Homo sapiens: one gene and its partners. The protein of the gene in region 4 interacts with the protein of the main gene of each other region in a pairwise test. Each region holds a gene or a part of one and is shown on either strand. Other genes may lie near its edges.

Region 1 (5,815 bases), on a different chromosome or scaffold from region 4:
CCCTCACACTTTTTTTTACTCAAGCTATTTATGTAGCACAATTCATCCGATTTTTAAAAAATATATTATGAAACATTTGTTATGCAGAAAAGTATGGATAACATAACAAAGACCTTTGAACTCACCATTCAGTATAAGAAATAAAACATGACCCATCCAGTTGAAGTCCCCTCTATACCTACCCCATCCCCAGATAACTACTTTTTTAAATTTGATATCATTCCCATGCTCTTCTTATTTTACTATGGTTTTGTTTTGCATGTTTTAAAACTTCATATTAAATTATAATACATATTATATGCATTCATCTGTCGTTTTCTTTTTCCCCTTGACTTTGTAATCATGAGATTCATCTATGTGGTTATATATACACATACATATATCAAACATTTATATATCACATACATATATAATATATACATATCACAGTTTACATATTCATTACTAAATATTGCTAAATTGTTTTACAAAGGGGCTATACCAGTTTGAATACCCACTATCAATATATAAAAGAATTCTTGTTGCTTTGTATCTTTAACAAAACTTGGTAGTTTTTGCAGTCTGGTGGGTGAAATGGTACCTACCTCATTGAGGTTTTAGTTTGTATTTCTGGTTGTTAATGAGATTAAGCATGTTTATTTCATCAGATTTCAACTCTTTGAATAATCTGTTTATATCTTTTGAGTGTTATTCTATTGAGAGGTTTTGGTTTGGTTTGGTATTTCTCATTACCTTATAGGAATTCTTCATGTATTCTGAATGTTAAACCTTTCTCATTTCTGTGCACTGCAAGAATCTTTCCTCAGCGTGGCTTGTCTTTCTACTTTGCTTATGGTGAATTTTGGTGCACAAATATTTTAGGTTTTCACATAGTTACATTTTATCAGTCTTTCACTTTTGCTTTGTCTAGATCTTGTCTAAGAAATACTTCCCTACCTCAAGATCGTATTTTCCGGTCAGGCATGGTGGCTCACTCCTATAATCCCCGCACTTTGGGAGGCCAAGGCAGGTGGATCACCTGCAGTCAGGAGTTTGAGACCAGCCTGGCCAACATGGTGAAACCTCATCTCTACTAAAAATGCAAAAATTAGCTGAGTGTGGTGGCGGGCACCTGTAATCTCAGCTACTCGGGAGGCTGAGGCAGGAAAATCACATGAACCCAGGAGGTGGAGGTTGCAGTGAGCCAAAATCACCCCACTTGCACTCCAGTCTGGGCGACAGAGTGAGACTCCATCAAAAAATATATATATATATATTTTCCAGTATTTTCATCTAAAAGCTCCAAGTTTTGCATTTCACACTTAGTCCTTCAAATCTTTCTTGAGCTTAATATTTGTGTTTGATTTGGGGTAGTGATCCATTTTCTTCCATTTGGAAAACCAGCGGTCCCAGTACCCATTTATTGACTAGCCCACCTCTTCCTCACCAATCCCGCAAGGCCATTTCTGTCATCTGTCAAGGCTTGGGCTCTCTGCCCTGTTCCACTGGTCTTTTTGTCTACCCCGGGTGACAAACATGCTGTCTTAATTACTTTATTTAAAAAAATAAAAGGGTCTTTGGCATTCAGTAAAGCAAGTTCCTCCACCTCTCCACCTCATTCTTTCTCAAAATTATTTTGGCCATTTTGGGCACAACTTTAATCTTTCTCCTCTCCTTGATTTGCCCTAGCCTACTACAAGCAATCAAATGGCAAGACTTAAAGTAAGCAGAAGGGAGAAATCAAGCCAAAGCCAGCCCTGGGTAGTCCATAAGCTGAATATTTGGTTCCTAATAACTAAGACATTGCTGTGTAGTCAAGAGTATAGACAGCCTATATATTAATAAAAGTAGAGTATGTGTTTACAAAAAAAACAAAACTATTTTTTTAAATCTTTTCCAGGCTATAACAAGGGCCACATTTAAAAATAGAAACTGGAGCCCATCCTCTGGTCAGTACCAAGGTTCTTGCCTTTATTTTTAAAAATACTACTTTTAAATCTATTTTTTGCATACAGATAGTCACAGAGAGTTTTGTGAAATAGTGCTAAAACTGTTCACTTTTGCCTAGATCCCTCAGAACATCCAAACCAAAGGTCAGTCACTAGGAGACATCCCAGGAGCATGCTAATTCCATCACAGCAGGGCCTAAGAATGAGGTCATCTTTCTCTCATTCAAGGGAGACCTTAGTTTCCTGCTCTCAGCGACACTTCCATAGCCTCATGATAGCTGCTTGGTGTTCTACAGTGTCTCCAGATCCAGACCCTCTTATATGGACCGCAGGACAAAAGGACTCTGGCCACCCAGCAGGCCATGGGCATGCTGTCCACGTGAGTTGGCGTCCCTCACACTTTCTCTATCTCATTCCCTTTCCATTCAGAATCTCAAGAGAAAGCTGGTTCTAGAAGGTTCTGTGTAACCTTCTCTGGAATGTTTTGCTGACTTCCCATAACTTGCATAAAGGACAAGTTCCTTTGAAACCCGAGTTGTAAAAGATCTTCCTTGCCCAGGTATTTAAAAATAATTCATCCTTTAAGTCAGAAATATATGCTGGATGTTGTCTTCCTGCAGACCAGCCCCTGCAGGCTAAGGCACCTGCTGCAGGGGGAGGGCCCCGGGAATCCCTGTGGCCTCCTGCAGCCCTGCTTCCGGCTTCCCTCTGCCCTCGGATGCCCGTCAGGACTGGAGCCGGAAGGTTCACTGACTGACCTTAAAGGCTGGCCCCTACGTCCTTTCTCAGCCCGAGCAGAGGCCCAGCGCTCTGCCGTGGAGGGCCTACCTCACAGAGCCTGGTCCGCAGAGAGCAGCCCCAGGGCTGCCTGAGTCTGCTCAGGGAAACAGGGCCACAGCCCGGAGCAGACACAACCTGGCCAGCAGGGCGCCATCCCCTTTGAGGGCAGGGAAGGCGAGCCAGGGAGGCCTCCAGTGCAACCCTGACCATCCTCCTCACCCATGTCCTGCTCACCAAGCCAGCTAAGGGTTGAGGGCCTCAGCTCAGTGAGGATGGTCACAGGTGATTTTAAAAGATGGGAGGGGCCAGGCGAGGTGACTCATGCCTATAATCCCAGCACCTTGGGAGGCCGAGGCGGTGGATCACTTGAGGCCAGGAGTTTGAGACCAGACTGGCCAACATGGCAAAACTTCGTCTCTACTAAAAATACAAAAATTAGCTGGGCGTGGTGGCATGTGCCTGTAATCCTGGCTACTCGGGAGACTGAGGCATGAGAGTTGCTTGAACCTGGGAGGCGGAAGTTGCAGGGAGCCGAGATGGGGCCACTGCACTCCAGCCTGGGTGACAGAGTGAGACTCTGTCTGAAAAAAAAAAAATTAAAAAAATAAAAGATGGGAGGAAAACATCTCATGTTTTATGCTCTGTGCTACAATTCTCCTCTCATTTATAGCCCCTACCAAGTCTTCTCATAAATGGGTCTGGGCACCTGCTGGGCAGCAAAGGCTGGATGGGAACGGTGTGGGGGGCTGAGGGGCACCACACTCACCCCACCCTCTGCTTGTCTGCAGGGCCCCCAAGGTTGCTTCGAAGCCAAGGCAGGCATCAAAAGCCAAAGTGGCCTTCTGCACCAGCATCCCTCAGGACACCCTGCTGGGGAAGGCCCGGCCCGGCACAACAGCAGACTGAGGCCCCCACCCTGAAAAAGCCTAGGACATTCCTGGGCACTGTCATTTAGGGTGCTGTACAAATCACCTCCGCCTAGAAAATGGAATTCAACAGTCAGGATACAGATTTCCAAGGCCAACTGTTGGCCCCAACATGCAACAGTGAGACCATAAGCCTCCCGTGGGCCACATTTTGACAGTGGATGCCCTTCAGGGTGATATATGCTATAAAGCAGTTTTCTATCACCTAAGTGGTTTTTCTTGCCAACAAGAATTTTTACCCATCAGCACTACTGTGGCTGAAAAACTTCTCTTCAACAGTTCAGTGCGCCCTGTGCAGGAGTCAGCCCGGCATCTGCTTGTACACACAGCTCCTTGCATAGGTGTGGAGTTAGATCTGGACAGTGAACTTCAGGAAGTCCTTTCTTATAGGAGGCTAATAGGGATTGAGAATAACATGAGAAGAAAACGCTAATAAAGGGAAACCTGAACACGCTGCTGTCAGCATGTGTTTTCAAAGTGCAGCCTGCCTCAGAGTTCTTCGGAGCCTGAAAAGGGGTTTGAGAAAGAGCCCAGTAGGAGGGGCAGGAGGCCGACACACCTGACTTGGCCTGGGGCCCAGGAGGCAGGTGTAAGGGAGTGAAAAGAAAGGCTAGCCGGAGGCTGCGGGGGGAAGACCGCAGACTCCCTGCTGCTTCGCATCCCTCCTGTGGCCTCCACTGCAGGCAGGACAAACCTGGATGCCACCTGGAGCTGCTTCCTGAGTTGGCACACTATCGTGTACACAGCAGTCTTCAGCCCCCTGGAAGGAGGCCATAGTCGTGTGAGGATGGCAAAGTCGAACAGGAAGCTTTGAGTGCCTTCCTCCACGATGTCAACGAGGAGATCCAGTGCCAGATCGAGGTGGATGGAACACCCAGGGGTAGGGGTGCAGGTGTGGGCAGTGATGTCCCTTCCCCTCCCTCCCCTGGTCCCACAGACTGTGGCCATGAGGCTGCAGGCTGGTGCTATGACAGCAGATTGCAGCACAGGGCCCTCCCCTCCAGCCCCCAGTGGGACATCAAAACCACCCTGGGGCCATTTGTGCAGGGCACCACCTCCAGTATTGATGGGGAAAATAAACTCAGTAGAGCCACGACAGGGTGGAGAGAAGCAGGGACCATTGTCTTCCTCAGGAGCGTGACAGCTGACCCCACAGACCATGCTTGCTGGTACACACTGGTCCCAGACCCAGGCCTGTCGGACATCAGCAGTGTGCTAAAAACGTGTAAGATGTCACTACTCACCGTGTGTCCTATCTAGTTGACATGGGTGGAGTCAGCTAAGGGGTGAATGTTCATATGCTCCCAATTCACGTTGAAGCCCTAATCCCCAAAGGGATGGTATTGGGGGTGGGGTCTTGGAGAGGTGATTAGGTTATGAGGGTGGAGCCCTGATGAATGGGATTAGTGCTTTATAAGGAGAGACACCAGAGAGATGATCTCTCTCTCCACCATGTGAGGACACAGTGAGAAGACAGCCGTCTGCAGGCCCGGAAGAGAGCCCTCACCAGGAAATGAAACTGTTGGCACCTTGAGACTTCCCAGCTTCCAGAACTGTAAGAAATAAATGTTTGTTGTTTAAGCCTTTCAGGCTACGGCTTTCTGTTACAGCAGCCTGAACTGAGAGTCCATGCCGAGTTTTTGAAATAAATGTGAATTCTGATGTTACTTCTTCCTTTCTGTACTTCTTGAAGCGTAGCTTGGAATCACAAAAACTAAAACACATTTTTAAAATTTAGCGCCCCCACCCCACCCCACCCCAGGAAGCAATGAATTTAGGAATGTTCCCTCCAATGTCTCCCATCTGTTAATTCTGTTGACTTCAACGAGAGGAAGACTATAGCTACTTGTGTTTTTCTATTTTTGGTAAAGGGCTACAAGGTTACAAACGGGTAAAGATATCTAGCTATTCCTTTGTCTCAAACTACCTCAGTTTTTTCAAGCCCCTAAGAAATGGCCATGCCTTAGGGTTAACCCTCCAATTTGCACTTATAAGGTAACCAACTGTCCTGGTATGCCCAGGACAGTCCTGGTTTTAGCACTCAAAGTACCACATCCCAAGAAACCTCTCCATCCCAAATGGGATGGTTGGTGGTGTCCTACTGCCACTAGTCATTCAGGCTGTGATGATGACATTTTTACCACAAATTGTCCAGTGTATATTTGATTACAAGCCAATTGG
Region 2 (2,908 bases), on a different chromosome or scaffold from region 4:
CTCCTGCCTCAGCCTCCCAAGTAGCTGGACTACAGCACCTGCCACCACACCCGGCTAATTTAGTGTATTTTTAGTAGAGATGGAGTTTCACCATGTTGGCCAGGCTGGTCTCGAACTCCTGACTTCAGCCAATCCACCCACCTTGGCCTCCCAATGTGCTGGGACCACAGGTGTGAGCCACCGTGCACAGCCACAAGGCCATGATTTTCTTTTAAAGGATGCTTGTTTTTGCAAAAGATTTTAGAACCAACTGTTACTAATGCTTTTGATGTTGATACTGTTGGGTGCGTGAGTCTGTACTGTTTGAAAAACGTTATGTCTTGATGAGTGACTAAGAGCACAGGCTTTAGAAATACACAGACTGGTTTCAAATATTGGGGCTGGTCCTCACCTGCTGATGTGGCCTTAGGTGAGTTTCTTACCCACCCTGAGCCTCCGTTCCCTCATATGTAAAATGGGCATAATGACCGGTGGCCTTTCAGGGTTGCCCACATGAAGGGAGATAGTAGGCATGAAATGTGCCTGGCATAGACAGGTACCTGGCAGTTGGTACATGTCTCAGTGGAGGGTATGTATATTTCAGAATTCTGTAACCTTTTAGTCTCAGTAAATCATGTTTTGAACACGAATAGATTCTGGCCACCACCAGCACCCCCCACCCCCAAAAAAAGGATATTGTTATATCTTTACAAAGACATAAATTTTTCTGCCAAATTTTTTTAGGCTCTTAGAGGAGGGGCCAGGGAGGTAGGATTTATGACAAGTTAAAAAAAGGCCTTTTTAGCAGGGTGTGGTGGCTCACACTTGTAACCCCAGCATTTTGGGAGACTGCAGCGGGTGGATCACTCAAGGCCAGGAGTTCGAGACCAGTCTGACCAGCATGGTGAAACCCCGTCTCTACTAAAAATACAAAAATTAGCCGGGTGTGATGGCATGCGCCTGTAATTCCAGCTACTTGGGAAGCTGAGGCAGGAGAATCACTTGAACCTGGGAGGCGGAGGCTACAGTAAGCCGAGATCTCGCCACTCTACTCCAGCCTGGGTGACAGAGCGAGACTCGGTCTCAAAAAAAAGGCCTTTGGTTTAACAGCCTTCTTCATTTTCACCATTAGAACACTTAACACTATAACATAACTAACCAGGAGTAAGAGTTGGGGCCGAGAGGAGAGTGCAGTCTGGACATTTGAGGTGCTTGCTCTAAAGTAGGTTATGGAGCTGAGCTGACTTCAGGAAAAGCCAACTGCTCCAGGTTCTCTCACTGGGGTTCAGAGAGTGGAGTGGCCTGCCAGAGCTCCAGGTAGCTGTGGATGCGGGGAGATGAACAGCCAGCAGAGCTAGGCAAACATGAAGATGTAAAACCAGGTTAAAATGGCAACTTTTCAGCCAAGGACATGATAGATGCATGTCGTGTCCCCAGGGCTGCACCCAGGAGAGGCCTGTGTCCTCCTGCATTGATGGGGCTGCATCTTCAGGCATTAGAAACTTGAAGGCCTTTCCTTGTTAGTTCCAAGTTGTACTGCTAGCACACAGAGCAGAGGCAGGGAGGGAGTGGCATTTACAGGCCGTCCTTGAACGGCTGAGTGGGAGCTGCCCGGGTGATGCTGTGAGGCAGGGCCTTCCTGTGCTCCCTGAACCTCCAGCGTGAACAAGGAGTGAATGCTGCAGAGCAGCTCCATGATGGGCCCAGGTAGCAAAGGGAGGAGCTCACAAGGCCTGTCTTGGTGATGTGGGCCTGGGGTATTTTAACTCTGGAAGTTTCTGTTTTGCTTTATCTAAATTGAAAGGATGGTTTTGCCTTTCAGCCTTTAGAAGAAGCCACACTCTCTGAATTAAAAACTGTCCTCAAGAGCTTCCTAAGTCAAGGCCAAGTATTGAAATTGGAGGCTAAGGTAGGTTTTAAATTATTTATGGTACGTTTTCTCGGGTTATTTTAAGCTTAAAATGGCTACAGAAAGTACTAGTGAAATATTAGATCTAACTCTATACTAATTTTTCTGTAGTTAAAATTTTGTATTTATTTTAAATTTAAATGATTATCTGACTGTGCAGTTTTACTTTTGCCTTTTTCTAGGTGTAATTATAACCTCTTACATTTGTGCAACACATTTAGCCTTTCAAAACACTTTTTTGTGTGTCCCATTTGATTAGCGCGTTTTCACATTTCCAGTCTTACTTCTTTTGTAGACTGATCCGTCAATCTTGGGTGGAATGATTGTGCGCATTGGCGAGAAATATGTTGACATGTCTGTCAAGACCAAGATTCAGAAGCTGGGCAGGGCTATGCGGGAGATTGTCTAAAAGTGTTGGTTTTCTGCCATCAGTGAAAATTCTTAAACTTGGAGCAACAATAAAAAGCTTCCAGAACAGATCATATTATGTTCACTGTCTTTTAAACTGGAATGTAGAAGGCTTTATTTTTATGTCCTTTTTTGGTATCCCCTGAGTATAAAGGCCAAAAAGCCCTTTTGGCCTAGAGAATTTGGTTTGAGTAGATTATGTTTAGGAATTAATTGGTTAGACACAGCACCTAACACATGGTCACTCAGCAAAGTCTATCTGGTCCTGCCTGCCAAAATCCCGTGTCTTTAAGGGTTTGTTCAGAGTTCCTGGTCCCTACTAGATCATCGGATCTGTGTTTGATCCATAGCCCTCCAGGGAGGCCTCTTGCCCTTGATCCTAACATGAACACACCTAGTTGTAGGCTGCTCTGTAGCTTTCAAGGCCATTTCATGTACATCTGAAGCTGCATGACAGCCTTGTCACACGGGTGGGAGAGACATCACCCCACTTTACAAATGAGGAAAGAGATTGAGGGGCCCTAGAGATGTGCTCAGAGTCACCTGTCTGGACAGCTGGTGTCAGGCCCTACAGCCCATGTTTTTACCACTGTATAACTAACACCATGCGCC
Region 3 (7,391 bases), on a different chromosome or scaffold from region 4:
AAGTAAAATCCACCCACTAGAACATACATCCCTTCACAGGGGATGCAAGACTGCTAGCTTCCCCCATTTTTAAAAAATTATTTTTTAATTGACAAGTGAAACTTGTATACATTGATGGTGTACAACATATTTTGATATAGGTATACAATGTAGAATGGCTAAATCAAGCTAATTAACATATGCATCACCTCACATATTTGTGTATGTGTGTTGTGAGAAGCCAAATTTATTAACTTTTTCATTTATAGCTAGTGATTTCTGTGTTCTGCCTAAGAAATATTTGCCTACCTCAAGGTTGCAAAGATTATCTCTAATGTCTTCTTCCAGGAGTTCCTTGGTAAATTCTAAGTAATTTTATGGCATGCTGTAAAGGTCAAGTTCCTTTTTCTTTCAAAAAAAAATTTTTTTTTTCTTTCTAAAAATCTGGGATTTTGGAAGGAGAAAGAATCTGGATGCAGCAAAGGGAAGCACTTGCCTTACCGCCTGGCTGTGACATACATGGAGCATTGTATGTCATGCAATGATATACACTGAGATGGGCAAAACTTTCGGTTAAAGCAAAAAGAAACATCTGGGAATACAGTGGTGCTTGCTGAATCCAGATGATTCCATGCTACATGGTGAAAGGGCTCAAGCGGGCAGCAAGGGTGACCACTGGACCAAATTAAGGGCTATAAGGAGCAGTGATGTGCAGGGTAGGTTACTCACAGGGGTTATTATATTATCTGAAATTTACATTAAAATACTTGGCAATTAAAGTGTGATATAGTTATGCGTAAATTAGTTTTTACAATCTAAATAGTTAAGATTTGATGTGTTGTAATATACGGCACATTAGCATAAGGGATGTCAGATATTTTTCACTGGTGAAATGAGGAGTACTTAATATATGCAGATGGGCTTGAGAACTGTGCTGATACTTCCCACCCTTCATGGACAGAGTATAAGAATTAGTGAACATTGGATATGACTAGGTGACCTCTTTGAATCTCAATTTCTTTCTCTGTAAAATAGGAAAAATAATGTCTATCTTCTAAGGGATATTGAGAGGAATGATAAGACACGCCCAACTCTAGGCTTGGCATTTAATGACTGTCCCACCCAGGTTAATTTGTTCCTTTTCCTTCTACCACTTTTTTTACTGTAGTACTTCGAGCTCCTGATTTTATGTCACTTACCACATTCTCTTTTGAGTTCCCATCTCAACTCTCTTGCTAGACACAGTCTTGAAGCTTAACTAATGCTGGCCTCCCTCTGAAGGTCCCATGGCAAAGCTCATCAAATCTTAGTGTACCCAATCACCTGAGATGCTTTTTAAAAATGCAGATTACAAAGCCTTACCTCAAAAGACTGATTCTGTATGTCTGTCTGGGTGTGGTCCAGGAATGTGCAGTATCATCGAGCACCTTTGGCTATGATGAATTAGGTGGTCAAGAACCACTCAGAGACACGTGGGATGTGAGAAAAACTTGTTTCAGAAATCCTACAATTACATTTTCTTCAAATTCGAGTTGAGACCCAAACAAAGACAGCTGACCCAGTTCTCCAGTCCCATGTGGAGGCTGGACTCAGCTGACCCAGGCCTGAAGCAGGCCCATCACCCTTGTTACATGTTTCCGCCCTTCTGGGTGACATAAAAATATCATTTTTGCTGGTCCGGCAGCAATCTCCCCTTTTCTGGTAACCCCCTGGATTTTCCCTACTCTTAGTGCAAAGCTTCAAGCAAGGCTAATCCCTTTCCCCACCATGAAAGTGAAGGTCAGCCTCTCAGACATTTATAAGAACAAGGAAGAGGAACACTCTTCCTGTAGAGATACTAAACTAGTAAGAACCTAAGTCTGGAGCTGCCTACTCCACTCTTACATAGAGTGCCTACTTGAGAATGAAACTAAGAGAGATGGTGCCCTTTGACATCATTAGGCCCCTGGGGTTCTTGCTAATCTGAGTTACTAATTCTCTTTTTGCTTTACGTCAGTTTGAGCTAGAATTTCTCCTTGCAACTGAAAATTCTGACTAACACACAGAGCCTCTACATTTCTCTGCACAAATGAACGCTTCCTCTCTGGGCAGTCCCAAATAATTCCCCTGTACCTCACTCTCCTCAAAGAACGTCACCTCCTTGCCACAAATGCAGGGAACCTGCTCCTTGGGACCAGGTGCAGCCCACTTTTCTTTCTTCCTTGCAGGGAAAAAAAAGGCCTTTTCCTTTGAGGCTTATGTTACGGAGCTCACTGTTCATTACTACTGTCTTCATTACTTAATTCATTTAAGACTGACACCTGTTTTATAATCTCTCCTTCCACCCTAGCTCTGCCATCATTCCAGATGGATCTCATCATTCATTTAATAGCCTATAATCATAGTTCATGTAGCATTCACTACACACCAGGCACGGTTCTAAGCATTTTACATATATTTTAGTTCACTCAACCCTTATAATAGCACAAGCTATTATTACGCCCACTTCTCACATAAGGAAACTGAGGCACAAAAAGGCTATTTAGACTTGCCTAGAGTTACCCAGTCATGAAGTGGTAGAGTAGGGATGAGGACAACGGAGTCAAATTGCAGAGTCCAGACTGGCCTCCCAGTTCCTTATAACTGTACCATCCTCCACATCTACTCTGCATTGGTGCTGTGGAGGTGGGAGAGAGGGAGTACCTCCTTCACTGAGTCACTGGACATTTGGAAGGTCTTTGGAGAGAAGTCAGCTGAGGATGGCCTGCATTGCCCCTTCCTGGAACTCAATGATTTGTTGTTATCACCCATGCAAATTCACCAACAAACAGATAAAAGTCAGGAAGCTGGGATGCAGCTGAACTGAAAACCCAGCAGCAGAAAAGCAGGTTATAGATTCTGCTCTGGGTGCTCCATACAGCTCCTTCCTCTCTGCCCCAATAACCTCCCTCTCTTTGGGAACATTGCTGCATTCAGGGCAGTCTGTCTTCCCTCCCTATGGGCTGTCTTTAGAATGTGTCCCTTGCCTATATCCATATTCATGCTCCGTGCTCCTCAGCCCCCTAGAAACTTTGCACAATAGATTCAAAACCTCTGGTTTCCTCCCTTCCTCTGTCTGAAAGAGTGAAAGAAGGAAGCCAGGGATTTCAGGGGGCAGCCAGGCAGCAGTATCACCACCCCTAGGCAATCACACCTAGTTGCAGCTTCATCGGGAACAGCTCAGCTCTGAAAACACAGACCTGGGACTCTCCCTCCCAGCCTTCTAGCTCTCGTTCCTGTGAGCAGCTTTTCAACCTCCACTTCCAGCCGCTGACAGGCCCTCCTGGCTCCACAAGGCCAGCTAACATACCCACCTTCCACAATCCCCAGCCCTGCCAGACATAACCTGCAACAGGCATTCCTGGATCAATGCAAACTCCGACTTCTGTTCCAGGAGTCTGCCTCTGTTAGAAGAATCTCACACAAGTGTGCGTGCTGTGCCATTGTAAATGCTGTATAAGGTGGCCAGGCCCAATCAGTCCCTGCAAGACACCGAACAGTAAGAACTATCTATGGAGTGTTTACTATGTGCCAAGCACCGTCCTTTGCAAGCACTATTAACCCTCAAAATACCACCACCGTGAGATTGAGACCATCATGATTCCCGTTCTACAGAAGGAAACACTGAGACTTCAGGAGGTCAGGACCTTTCCAGGGTCACAACTGCGTAACTAAGTTGCAGAGCTCAACCCAGTGGCACTTCCATCTCACACGCAGCTGTCTGATGGTCAAGAGCCCAACCAGTCCCCCGGTCGTTTCTACCGCACTAAACCGCTGTGTCAAGCTGGAGCAGCGGGCTCAGCAGTGAAAATGAAAGAACAGAAGGAGGTTACAGAGAAGAGAACGGTCACGGTAAATTCCGGAGAGGAGGCAAGGACGTACACACCGAGATACTTCCCGGTCACCGTTACTCAGCACTTTGTGGGGTTCACGTGGCTGGGGGGGCCGGGGCGTGGCGGCCCTTTTCGAGGAATCCAGCCCTGCCTGGGCGGTCCCCATCTCGAGCGTGGGCGTGTTCGATTCAGGCCCGGCGGACGCATCCCCAGGTGACCCGGGAGGGACCTTGTGTCTCTGGGGGTGACTGTCCGTCTCCCCGCCTCCCACCGTCACGCGCAGTGCTGATCCCCACTTCCAGCTGGAGTGCGAGCTGGGCTTGGGGTTACAGGAGCCGAAGCCCTGGAGCTCCGCCCCACGCTTGCGCCAGCCCCGCCCCGATCCCGGCTCGCAGGCTCCAGGGGCGGGGCGTGGCCGGGGCGCAGCGACGGGCGCGGAGGTCCGGCCGGGCGCGCGCGCCCCCGCCACACGCACGCCGGGCGTGCCAGTTTATAAAGGGAGAGAGCAAGCAGCGAGTCTTGAAGCTCTGTTTGGTGCTTTGGATCCATTTCCATCGGTCCTTACAGCCGCTCGTCAGACTCCAGCAGCCAAGATGGTGAAGCAGATCGAGAGCAAGGTACGCGCTACCGGGGAAGGCCAGGGTGCCGGCGCCGCGCGCGGCCTCTGTAACTGGGGAAGGCGGTGGCGGGAGGTGGGGAAGGCGGTGGCGGGAGGTGCGGAGGCCGCCCCTCCGCATCGCCAGGGGAAAGGGACGCGGCGTCTCGGCCTGGGACTGCGGGAAGCAGCGGCCTGGGCGCGCCCGAGGCGGTGGAGCCTGCCCTGGAGGAAGGGAGGAGAAGGACGAGGGTCCCCTGGAGGGCGGAGTGGCGGTGCCCAGCGTTTCTCGCACCCTGTTCCTCGGGGGATTGCACGCACGCGGGGAGCGTCCGGGGGATGTGAGAGCGCAGACAGCGTGAGGAGTCCCCACGCTGCGCCTCCTGCACCCTCCCGTCCGGGCAGCCCCGACTGGAGGAAGATGAGGGAATGGAAGGGGTCCGCCCTTGGCCCCCCATCTGTATCCAGATTCAGGCCCCAGGCAAGGATAGGGAGGGCCCTTGCAGAAGGCACGGGTCGGTGGCCGCCGCTGCCTTTCCGTATGTGAAGTGATCCACCCGCAGCGGGGGTAGTGATCTCCCTTTGGGAGCGGGTCTAGGCCGGAGACCCCCGCCTGCCTCCACCCATGCCCGACCCCAAAGGTGACGCGTGCTGTATCCGCACTAAGGGGGCGGATTGCGGCTGGAGACCCCCTGGCACGTGCAGGTCTGTCCAGGAGGCCCGAGGGCCCCAGGTGACCGCGAGGAAGTGAGGTCCGGGCCGCGCCCACGGGACTCCTGTGGCGCAGGGCGCGTTTCCGGCAGCAGTGGCTTTGGAATGACTGAGTCCCCAAGGTTGGGCCCGGGGGCCTCGGCTGCCCTGCCCGTCCATGATTCACCCTCAGTCGGTGGGTTTTGCTGGAGCCAGGGTTCCTCCTGGGAGCAGCCGCGCCCTGCTGCCTGCTCGCCGACCTATCGGTATCCCGATCGTTGTTTTGTCCTCTTAAAAATGCCCAAGGCGAAACAGCCTTCCCATGTTTGAAAGTTATTGCAAGCCTAAAACCTTGTAGACTGGGAAACCCAGAGCCTAACGCGCAGTGTCTAGTCCAATGTAGCCACTCCAGAAATATTTGTTAAATGCAGCGTCAGAAAAGTGAGTGGAGGAAATTGATACTGCTCGAACGGTAGAAGACCCCTCGCCAGCGCCTACCCTGCGATTACCCCTCCCTACCTGCGGGAAGCAGAGGAGGGCGGGTCCTCGCCCGCCTCGGGTGCCCTGACCTGTTTGGTGCCGGGTGGGCTTCGGAAACAGAAGTGTGTCTGCAATGTGTCCCCGATCCTTTTGTTCCTTTGATTATTATTGACTCTCAGTGTTTTTTCCTCATATGTTGATTGCCACTGTCATCTTTTATCTTCCTCTCAATCAGTTTTTTCTTAGTGGGATTCTCATTTTAGCAGCCCTCATGTGTTGAAAAGATCCTTAGTAGTGAATTGTCTTTCATATACTTTTTTTCCAAGCACCTATTGTGTGACAAATTATTAATCCATTCCTGGGGAAGGGAGTGGGGCTGGGATTCTGTTCTCCAGGGTCTGGCAACCTCAGTATAACCCAACTGCTAAGAACCCCCTCCACTGAGCCAGAAGACCTTTGAGTGGTCTATGTTAGTTGTCCCAAAATCCAGACACTACAAACAAAGTTGATTAGGATTTCTGGAGCACACAGTTTAGTCCTCCCAGTTGTCAGAGCATGTCAGAGCACCTTCCTCCTCTACCAGTGACAAAGGTGTACAAGGGTGACAGGAACTTTAAAAAAAGCACTACAGCCTGGGGCCCAAAGGCCCTGATAATCAATTAATCCTCAAAATAACAATCCAAAGTCATTGATCGAAAGTTACACTAATTTGATTGTTATTTGTCTGTTAGTTTGTTTTTCGAGATGGAGTTTTGCCCTTGTTGCCCTGGCTGGAGTACAGTGGCGCGATCTCGGCCCACTGCAACCTCCACCTCCTGAGTTCAAGCGATTCTCTTGCCTCAGCCTCCTGCACAGCTGGGATTACAGGCATGCGCTGCCAAAATGCCCAGTAATTTTGTATTTTTAGTAGAGATGGGGTTTCACCATGTTGGTCAGGTTTGTCTCGAACTCCTGACTTCAGGTGATCCACCAACCTCAGGCTCCCAAAGTGCTAGGATTACAGGCGTGAACCACCACGCCCAGCCTGTTATTTGTAAATGTTGAATACATGTTACATTTTCATCCTAATGGGCTAAATTTGCACCATTTGCCATTCAGAACAATTCTGTTTCTGAGGTACTCTGTTGGTGCTTTAGGGCCAACTGGGATCTATTTCAGAGAGGAATGGAATAATTGACTGTAAATGTGATGAGGAAGAAATAAACACTTTTAAAAAAAATGACACCTACCATTTATTGAACTCCCATCTACAAGGCACTTGGCTAAGTACTTCAGAAACCACTCACACTTATTACCCTCAGAGTAGGTATGTTGAGGCAACGAGATCTTAGACTCTTGCTCCTATTTACCCCAACTACACTGTTCTGCTTCCCCCAGATTATTGGTGTCAGTGATGGAGACATTTATTAATCCTGTTAGTTTCTGGGAGCTAGAAATTGTGATTTCTTCTTAGTAATACAATCTTGAATAATTTTCAAGCTGATACCCGTTTAGAAGTATCAGAAGAGAATTTGTACATGAAGCCTGCACATACGTGGGGTGTAACTCATGTTCAGTTAGGCTAAAAGTTATTGTTGCGTGCCTCTTTTCAGAATTTTAGGTACTTGTGCTTAAATTTGATTCAGAACTGTTTTGGAAAAGCCTTGAGTATGTTTGAAATACCTTCCCTCTTGAAAGTAATCTCAAGTTTTTAATAAGGGTTAATCATGTTAAAAAAACAAAAATGTCTATTCAACCAGACATTGGCATTTCTTGACCTTTTTTCCTGTCTTACCTGGATCTTGCAATAAAGGATG
Region 4 (6,786 bases):
AGTATACAGTACATATATATGTAGCAATCCATTTACATATAACTAAGAATTGTGGATCATTCTAGTGGTGAGCTCATGTCACCATTCCTAAGGGAAAGGCAGTTGCAATATGCCACCTAAGGGTACAGGCAGCTTGTTCAAAATCTGACTACCAATGATTGAGGATGTGGATAAAGGTAAGGTAATAACGAAGGTAAATTTGAAAGGTTCCCTGACACCACCATTGTCCACATCATAGTATGAGTGATTCCTGCTTTCTTGTTTGGATGAAGACAATTTTAAGAATGGTAATCTGAGACACATCATGCTACAAACAGAAAGGTCTTCATAAATCTTTGGAGAACCCTGATGTTTCTATTAAGAACAAGAACATAACTCTCCTCCAGAAATCCTTCCCCAACCAATTTCACTGACTCTAATAACTATTTCTCACTTCCTCACTCTTTCTCTGTAAATATCAGATTACACTGATATTTTTGCATCTGTCAATATGTTATTTCATAGTTACTATCATAGAATTCACAAAGGTTTGGCCTTATTTCCTGGGTCACAATGCAAAACACAGAGTTTTCTTTACATATGATTACCTTTCTTCATACAGTAAATATCAGATTATTTTCCCCGTCTTTGTGTTGAAAATTGTATAACTTAGTTGTCTCACCAAATAAGCTGTCATATCCTATGCTTCCATGATCTATTTTCTGACTCCTGGTGGTAGAATTCTCTACTGTGTCAGAGATCTTGAAAGACTAGTCAGTATTCAAAATTTCTACTTATTCCTCTAATTTCATTCTGTGATCTCCTATCATCTGGCACCTGCCTCACCATTCTATTGATTCTCGTCACTTGAATCACTAAGGATATCTTATTAGCTAAATCTAATGACCTTTTGTTCACCCTCATCCTATGTAACCTCTGTGCATTATATGAAACTAATAACACTCTTTTTACCTTCCAAATTTCTCCTTAGGTCTAAAATATCTCCCTTTTTTGATTGTCTACTTCTCTGACTACTCCTACTGCTTGTTCTCCCTTATCCTATCCCTAAAGGTATCTGCTACCCTTTCCAAGACCTCGGGATTCCTTCCTCTGTTTTTTTGTCCTGCTTATTCTCTCCTTCCAACCTTCATCTCCAGCAATTTTATTGAAGCACAAGGTCTTAGCCACAAACTGAGCACTGAAAACACCCAAATTTATAATACATATCTCTAGTTTTGTCCTCTCACCTAACTTCCAGCCCAGTACAGCCATTCAACTATAATTCAATATAACTATCACAAAGGCATTTGTCAATCCAAAACTGCATTTATTATCTCCTCTCTATAGTCTATTTTTCCTCATATCTATTACGATTTGAGGCATCACTTGTCACAAAACCTAGTTTCTCAAGTCAAATGCCTCAAAATCATTTTCCGCTCCAACACCCATATTTATTTCTCATATATTAATACAATTGGTTAACAAGTCATGCTAACTGTATGTCAAAAATCTCTTGTTATCTGACATCTCATCGAGGTCCTGCCACAGTTCAAGCCCTAATCATGTTTTGTCTGCACTGTTGAAGGAACCTCTTAACAGGTTTCTCTGTCTTCACTTTCTCCCTCCTCCAGGCTGCTAAAAGAAACAATTTACTTTTAATTTCTTAAAAGTGTTTATAAGCGGAAGTGGGAGAATGGCAGTATAAAGAGACAACTAATCACAAACTGAAGTTCATGTTTAAAGTATTATAGAGGGAATAAAAGAGATAAGGTAAAAGATGTTCTGAACTTAGTAGACAAGAACACAAAGGAGTAAGGGGGACAACTATAAAATCACCAATGGTAGCACACAGCTGTAGAAAGGAGGAGATCCATGAAGGCAGGCCACGGTGCTGTCCTCAGCCCTCTACTCTTCTTGCTCCATATTCTGTCCCTGAGTTATTTCAACCGCTGCTGTAAATACAGCTTTCACCTCTCAATACTACATCTTCAGCTCTGATGTCTCTCCTAAGTTCTAGACTCATATATCAAACTGCCTACTAAGTATCTCCACCAGGATGCCCAACAGGTATTTTTTTTTTTTTTTTGAGACTGAATCTCACTCTGTTGCCCAGGCTGGAGTGCAGTGGCATGATCTCGGCTCACTGCAACCTCTGCCTCCCAGGTACAAGCTATTCTTGTGCCTCAGCCTCCCAAGTAGCTGGGACTACAGGCGTGCGCCATTACGCCCAGCTAATTTTTGTATTTTTAGTAGACACAGGATTTTGCCATGTTTGCTAGGCTGGTCTCCATCTACTGACCTCAGGTGATCCACCCACCACAGCCTCCCAAAGTGCTAGGATTACAGGTGTGAGCCACCACACATGGCCCCAACAGGTATTTTAATGTTAATATGTCTAAAGGTGAACTCATCCCAAAAAATTCTTCTTCATTCTCCAACTAGTCAATAACAGGGCTATCTACTTAGTCCCCTATACCAGAAACCTGGGCATTATCCTCAGCATTCCCTCATCCTTGTCCCTGACATCCCTATGCATTCTATCTACCAAATGGCTCTCTACACTCTTCTCTCCATCCCTATTTCCACTGCTTTAGTTTACTTCTTGAATTGCTTTAGCATCTCCCTAATGGGTCTTCCTGACTCCAGTCTCTCCCCCTTTCCTCACCATTCTCTTTTCTACATTATCTTCTGGATGCTCTTTCTGTAGAAGTCACTCTAGAATAAGCCAAAACATGAACCCTTTCCACTGATGGCTGATAAATAAAATATACAAGCTGAGAAGGAAAGAAATCACAAAACAGCATCTAAAAACAGCATTTAAATGGTGGGACTTTATGCCTCTGGGGTTTAACTACCTTCTTAGGTAATATTTTAATGCTTGATTTATTGTCTTTTTCCTCTCTAATTATCTGACATAGGACCCTTAGAGAAGAAATATTGTCTTTTTAAATGTAGTTCATAGAATAGAACATAATGCCCATATAATAAAAAATGAATGCTCTGATTTTTCAGAAGGGAAAATAACTTAAAACGCCAAAATCAGTGTATCCCTGTATGGCTTAGTCCCTTAGGTACATAAATGATGGTGGATAACATTGTGGAGAGAGTTAAATTAGAATGGTATCCTGGGGTGAGATTCTAATGTCAGGACAAGGAGTGTGCCACAAGGATCCATCAAATGATTTTAAGCTTAAGAGAAACATGATCATAGGAAAGATTAGGAAGTGATTAGGGATTATGAAGAAATTAAAGACAGGAAGATTATTTGAGAAGAAACATGGACATTCCCTAAGTGGGCATGGATGTCTTAGAAGTTTCTGAGGTCACAGCAACAAGATTTTGTCTCTTAGTTGACTTGTTTTTAAGGGTCGGTATGAAGGGTAGGTAACTTAAAAATTTGATTTTGAGGTTTCTGTATTGGACAACATAGGAATTTAGGAGGGGAATCATCTCCTGCATATATTAAAATAAGCAAGAGGCCATTAGTTTGAAGCTGTTTCCATACTTTGAGTTCCTATCTAACAAACCGCAAACTAACTTAGCATGTAAACAGACTGAAACTTAACATAAGCTGTATAAAAGACAGCCTAATTTCAGCCAAACACAACTAGCCAGGCTCCAGCTAATTACAGGCAGTCAAGTGACAAGACCATGTCCAAATAAGGCAAATGCCTTGCTGTAGCCAATCAGGTGATTTTTCTCTTTTGTGTCCAAACTCAGCCTATAAAAATTCACTTCTCATGTTGCTGGGAATAGCTCTCTGAAACTCTTCTGGTTCTGAGTACTGACAAATTCATGACTCGTTTTTCTTTTTTTTTTTTTTTGGTTGTTGTTTATGTGTAAACAAACTGTTAACGTTGTCTAACGTTTTTCTTTTAACAGGGAAAAGGGGGAGTCATATCATGAACATTCTGATTGTATGTGTCTGTAGGACATGTATGAAATGTGAATCTAGATTGGGAGTTTGACATCTACAGGCCAAATCATGCCAACTGCCTGGTTTTATAAATGAACTTTTATTAGAACATGGCCATGGTCATTTCTTCAGGTATTATTTATGGCTGCTTTTGTGCTACAAGTAGTTGGGATAATCTTTTGCCCACAAAGCCTCAAATGCCTGCTATCTTGCCCGTTTCAGAAAAAGGTCACTAACCTGTATACTAGGATTTAGGAGTCTGGAAAATGAACTGCAGAATTTTCATGGGTTGGGGGCTTTTTCGTGTTCTAGAACATACCCATTATTCCCCCTTCAACCTCTAGGGGGGTCCCTACTAGCCGTTGGCATGGGACAAACCATTGTCAAGAGGGAGGGATACATGGGACTTTTTTGACTTGATTATAAGGGCTTAATTTTCTTGGTTCTAAGTCTTTTCTGACCACTCCTGTTTCTTCCGACCTTTAAGGGCTCCCAACCATGTGACAGGTTCCCTTAAATCCCAATGGAGTGGCAGGGGCCTTCCTCACTCACTCCCTTCCACTCCTGGTATCTCTGGAAATTGGAACAGTCCCAGAGTAAAAGCCGACGTTGGCCCTGAGTCTTCCTTTCCCTGGAACCTTAGGAGGGAGAGAGATCTTCCTCTCTCTTCGGGCGTGTTAAGACAGCGGGGTTGGCCTGTACTTCCTCTGGCCCTGGCTGAAGAGGTGAGGCCTGGTGGGAGGTGTCCTAGGGTAGGACAAGCCGGTCAGGGGGTCATTAGGACGGTCTTGTCAGAGCGGGTAGGGCGGGGACAAGAGGGCGGGAGAAGATGGATGAGGGGAGGGGCTAAGGGGGAGGAAAGGAACCTATTGGCTGCTCCATCCACACAGGGCTAGTGAAACCGTTAAACCCCTAGGCGATCATGGCCTTGAGACCTGAGGACCCCAGTAGCGGGTTCCGGCATAGCAACGTGGTGGCCTTCATCAACGAGAAAATGGCCAGGCACACGAAAGGCCCCGAGTTCTATCTTGAGAATATATCCTTATCCTGGGAGAAGGTGGAAGACAAGCTGAGGGCCATACTGGAGGACAGCGAGGTGCCCAGTGAGGTCAAAGAGGCCTGCACCTGGGGCAGCCTGGCCTTGGGAGTGCGCTTTGCCCACAGGCAGGCACAGCTACAAAGGCACAGGGTGCGGTGGCTGCACGGCTTCGCCAAACTGCACAAATCAGCCGCACAGGCCTTGGCATCAGACCTGAAGAAGCTCAGGGAGCAGCAGGAGACGGAACGCAAGGAGGCGGCCTCCCGGCTAAGAATGGCCCAGACCAGCCTCGTGGAGGTGCAGAAAGAGAGAGACAAGGTGAGTTGGAAGCCGCTCCATGCAGTAAGATCCCTCAACTGGTCCCTGCCCAGTACCACTGCCCTGCCCCATTCCCACCCCTCTCCACCCTGCTCCATGGCTTCGCCCTGCCCCGCCCTTCCCACCTGGTAGCTCCGTCCTACCCTGCTTAGTGCTCCCGCCTTGCCCCCAGAACACACCTCAGCCCTGCCCACTTCTCTCCAGGAGCTGGTGTCTCCCCATGAGTGGGAGCAGGGGGCAGGGTGGCCAGGCCTGGCCACTGCCGGAGGGGTTTGCACAGAAGGAGCAGCTGAGGAGGAAGAAGAGGCGGCGGTGGCTGCTGCTGGTGCTGCTGGAGGAAAAGGAGCAGAAGAAGAGCAGAGGGATGTGGAGGTTGTGGCTGCCCCTGTGGAGGCCATGGCTCCCCCTGTGGAGGCTGGGGCTGCCCCCATGGAGACCCAGTTCCCCCACGTGGAGGCCAGGGCTGCCTCCATGGAGACCACAGAGAAGCTGGAGAGAATCCTCCTGCAGCTCCTTGGAGATGCTGATCAGGAAAAGTACACCTATTGGGGGCAGAAGGAGGGAGATCTCCGGTCGGTCGAAACAGCCACATCTTATTTCTCTGGAACCACGAACCCCTGGTCCAGAGCCTCATCAGAACCTCTTCCTGTCCAGCTCCCTGCCTCATACTCATACTCATACTCAAGCCCTTTTTCCTCCTTCTCAGACATACCCACTATATCCCCTCCACAAGCAACAGTCACAGCACCAGTTCCGCCTCAGCTGCCTTCCGACTGGGAGGCCTTTGATACTAGCCTGTGGTCTGATGGGGGGCCCCACAGAATAGACCATCAGGAGCACCCAAGAGACAGGAGATACTCCGAACCTCATCAGCAAAGACCTCCAGTATATCGCAGGCCAGGGGACTGGGACTGCCCTTGGTGTAACGCTGTGAATTTTTCACGGAGGGATACTTGCTTCGACTGTGGGAAGGGAATCTGGCTGCAAAAACCTCATTGAGTGCAGAAATGCAAAATAGAACCGAAGCATGTATATCTCGATGGCGAATTAATTTTCAGAGGGCAGGCTTGTGGTGGCGGGGGCCGGGGTGGTAGGGGAAGAAGGCTGGGAAGAGTGGGGGAAGGAGGTGAGACAATGGTACCTTTACGAATAACTTCAGAGATAGGGGTGGTGACTGGAGGAGGGGGAGGAAAGTAGGGGTTGTGAAAGAGGTGTAGAAGTGGGGTGGTGGCCAGGGGAGGTATAGATTGGGGTGGGGAGAGAGAGACACATGGAGACAGACATGTTTTGGTGACCCCCTTTGTATTCCAGAGCACTTGCACTCAATACCCCAGAAGTGCTGCAGCTTTTATTTGTGTATGTCTCGCTCGCTCTCTCCCTGCCCTAGTGTCTGGTAAAAGAGGCAACCATGTGTATAACACCCCACCCTCTACTCGCATCTAGGCCTTAGATGATTGGAGCAGGAGTGGATATTTGGCCCATCCAGAGCCAAATGGATTTTTCATGCTAGACACTCTGAACAGAGAGGCCGATT

The links.
Region 1: the proteins of TEX13A (region 4) and TTC23 interact in binary tests that used the Homo sapiens proteins (3 or more experiments, as listed by UniProt).
Region 2: the proteins of TEX13A (region 4) and ATP5PO interact in binary tests that used the Homo sapiens proteins (3 or more experiments, as listed by UniProt).
Region 3: the proteins of TEX13A (region 4) and TXN interact in binary tests that used the Homo sapiens proteins (3 or more experiments, as listed by UniProt).

Annotation. Positions count from the first base shown.
Region 1 is NC_000015.10:99,135,809-99,141,623, reverse strand, and holds the end of TTC23 (tetratricopeptide repeat protein 23), read left to right. Parts: exon of another isoform or gene 1-1,879; coding exon of another isoform or gene 1,880-1,928; exon of another isoform or gene 1,929-2,047; coding exon of another isoform or gene 2,048-2,224; coding exon 2,225-2,307; exon of another isoform or gene 2,308-2,357; coding exon of another isoform or gene 2,358-2,396; exon of another isoform or gene 2,397-3,496; coding exon 3,497-3,614; coding exon of another isoform or gene 3,615-3,663; 3' UTR 3,664-5,037; coding exon of another isoform or gene 5,038-5,187; 3' UTR 5,188-5,301; downstream 5,302-5,815. UniProt on the Homo sapiens protein: Participates positively in the ciliary Hedgehog (Hh) signaling.
Region 2 is NC_000021.9:33,902,915-33,905,822, reverse strand, and holds the end of ATP5PO (ATP synthase peripheral stalk subunit OSCP, mitochondrial precursor), read left to right. Parts: intron 1-1,801; coding exon 1,802-1,888; intron 1,889-2,183; coding exon 2,184-2,297; 3' UTR 2,298-2,370; downstream 2,371-2,908. UniProt on the Homo sapiens protein: Subunit OSCP, of the mitochondrial membrane ATP synthase complex (F(1)F(0) ATP synthase or Complex V) that produces ATP from ADP in the presence of a proton gradient across the membrane which is generated by electron transport complexes of the respiratory chain.
Region 3 is NC_000009.12:110,253,468-110,260,858, reverse strand, and holds the start of TXN (thioredoxin), read left to right. Parts: upstream 1-4,351; 5' UTR 4,352-4,423; coding exon 4,424-4,447; intron 4,448-7,391. UniProt on the Homo sapiens protein: Participates in various redox reactions through the reversible oxidation of its active center dithiol to a disulfide and catalyzes dithiol-disulfide exchange reactions.
Region 4 is NC_000023.11:105,218,429-105,225,214, reverse strand, and holds TEX13A (testis-expressed protein 13A), read left to right. Parts: upstream 1-4,520; 5' UTR 4,521-4,620; intron 4,621-4,785; 5' UTR 4,786-4,817; coding exon 4,818-5,252; intron 5,253-5,456; coding exon 5,457-6,251; 3' UTR 6,252-6,286; downstream 6,287-6,786. UniProt on the Homo sapiens protein: Binds to ssRNA containing the consensus sequence 5'-AGGUAA-3'. Plays a role in transcriptional repression. Required for rapid sperm motility and timely degradation of mRNA via its interaction with CNOT1.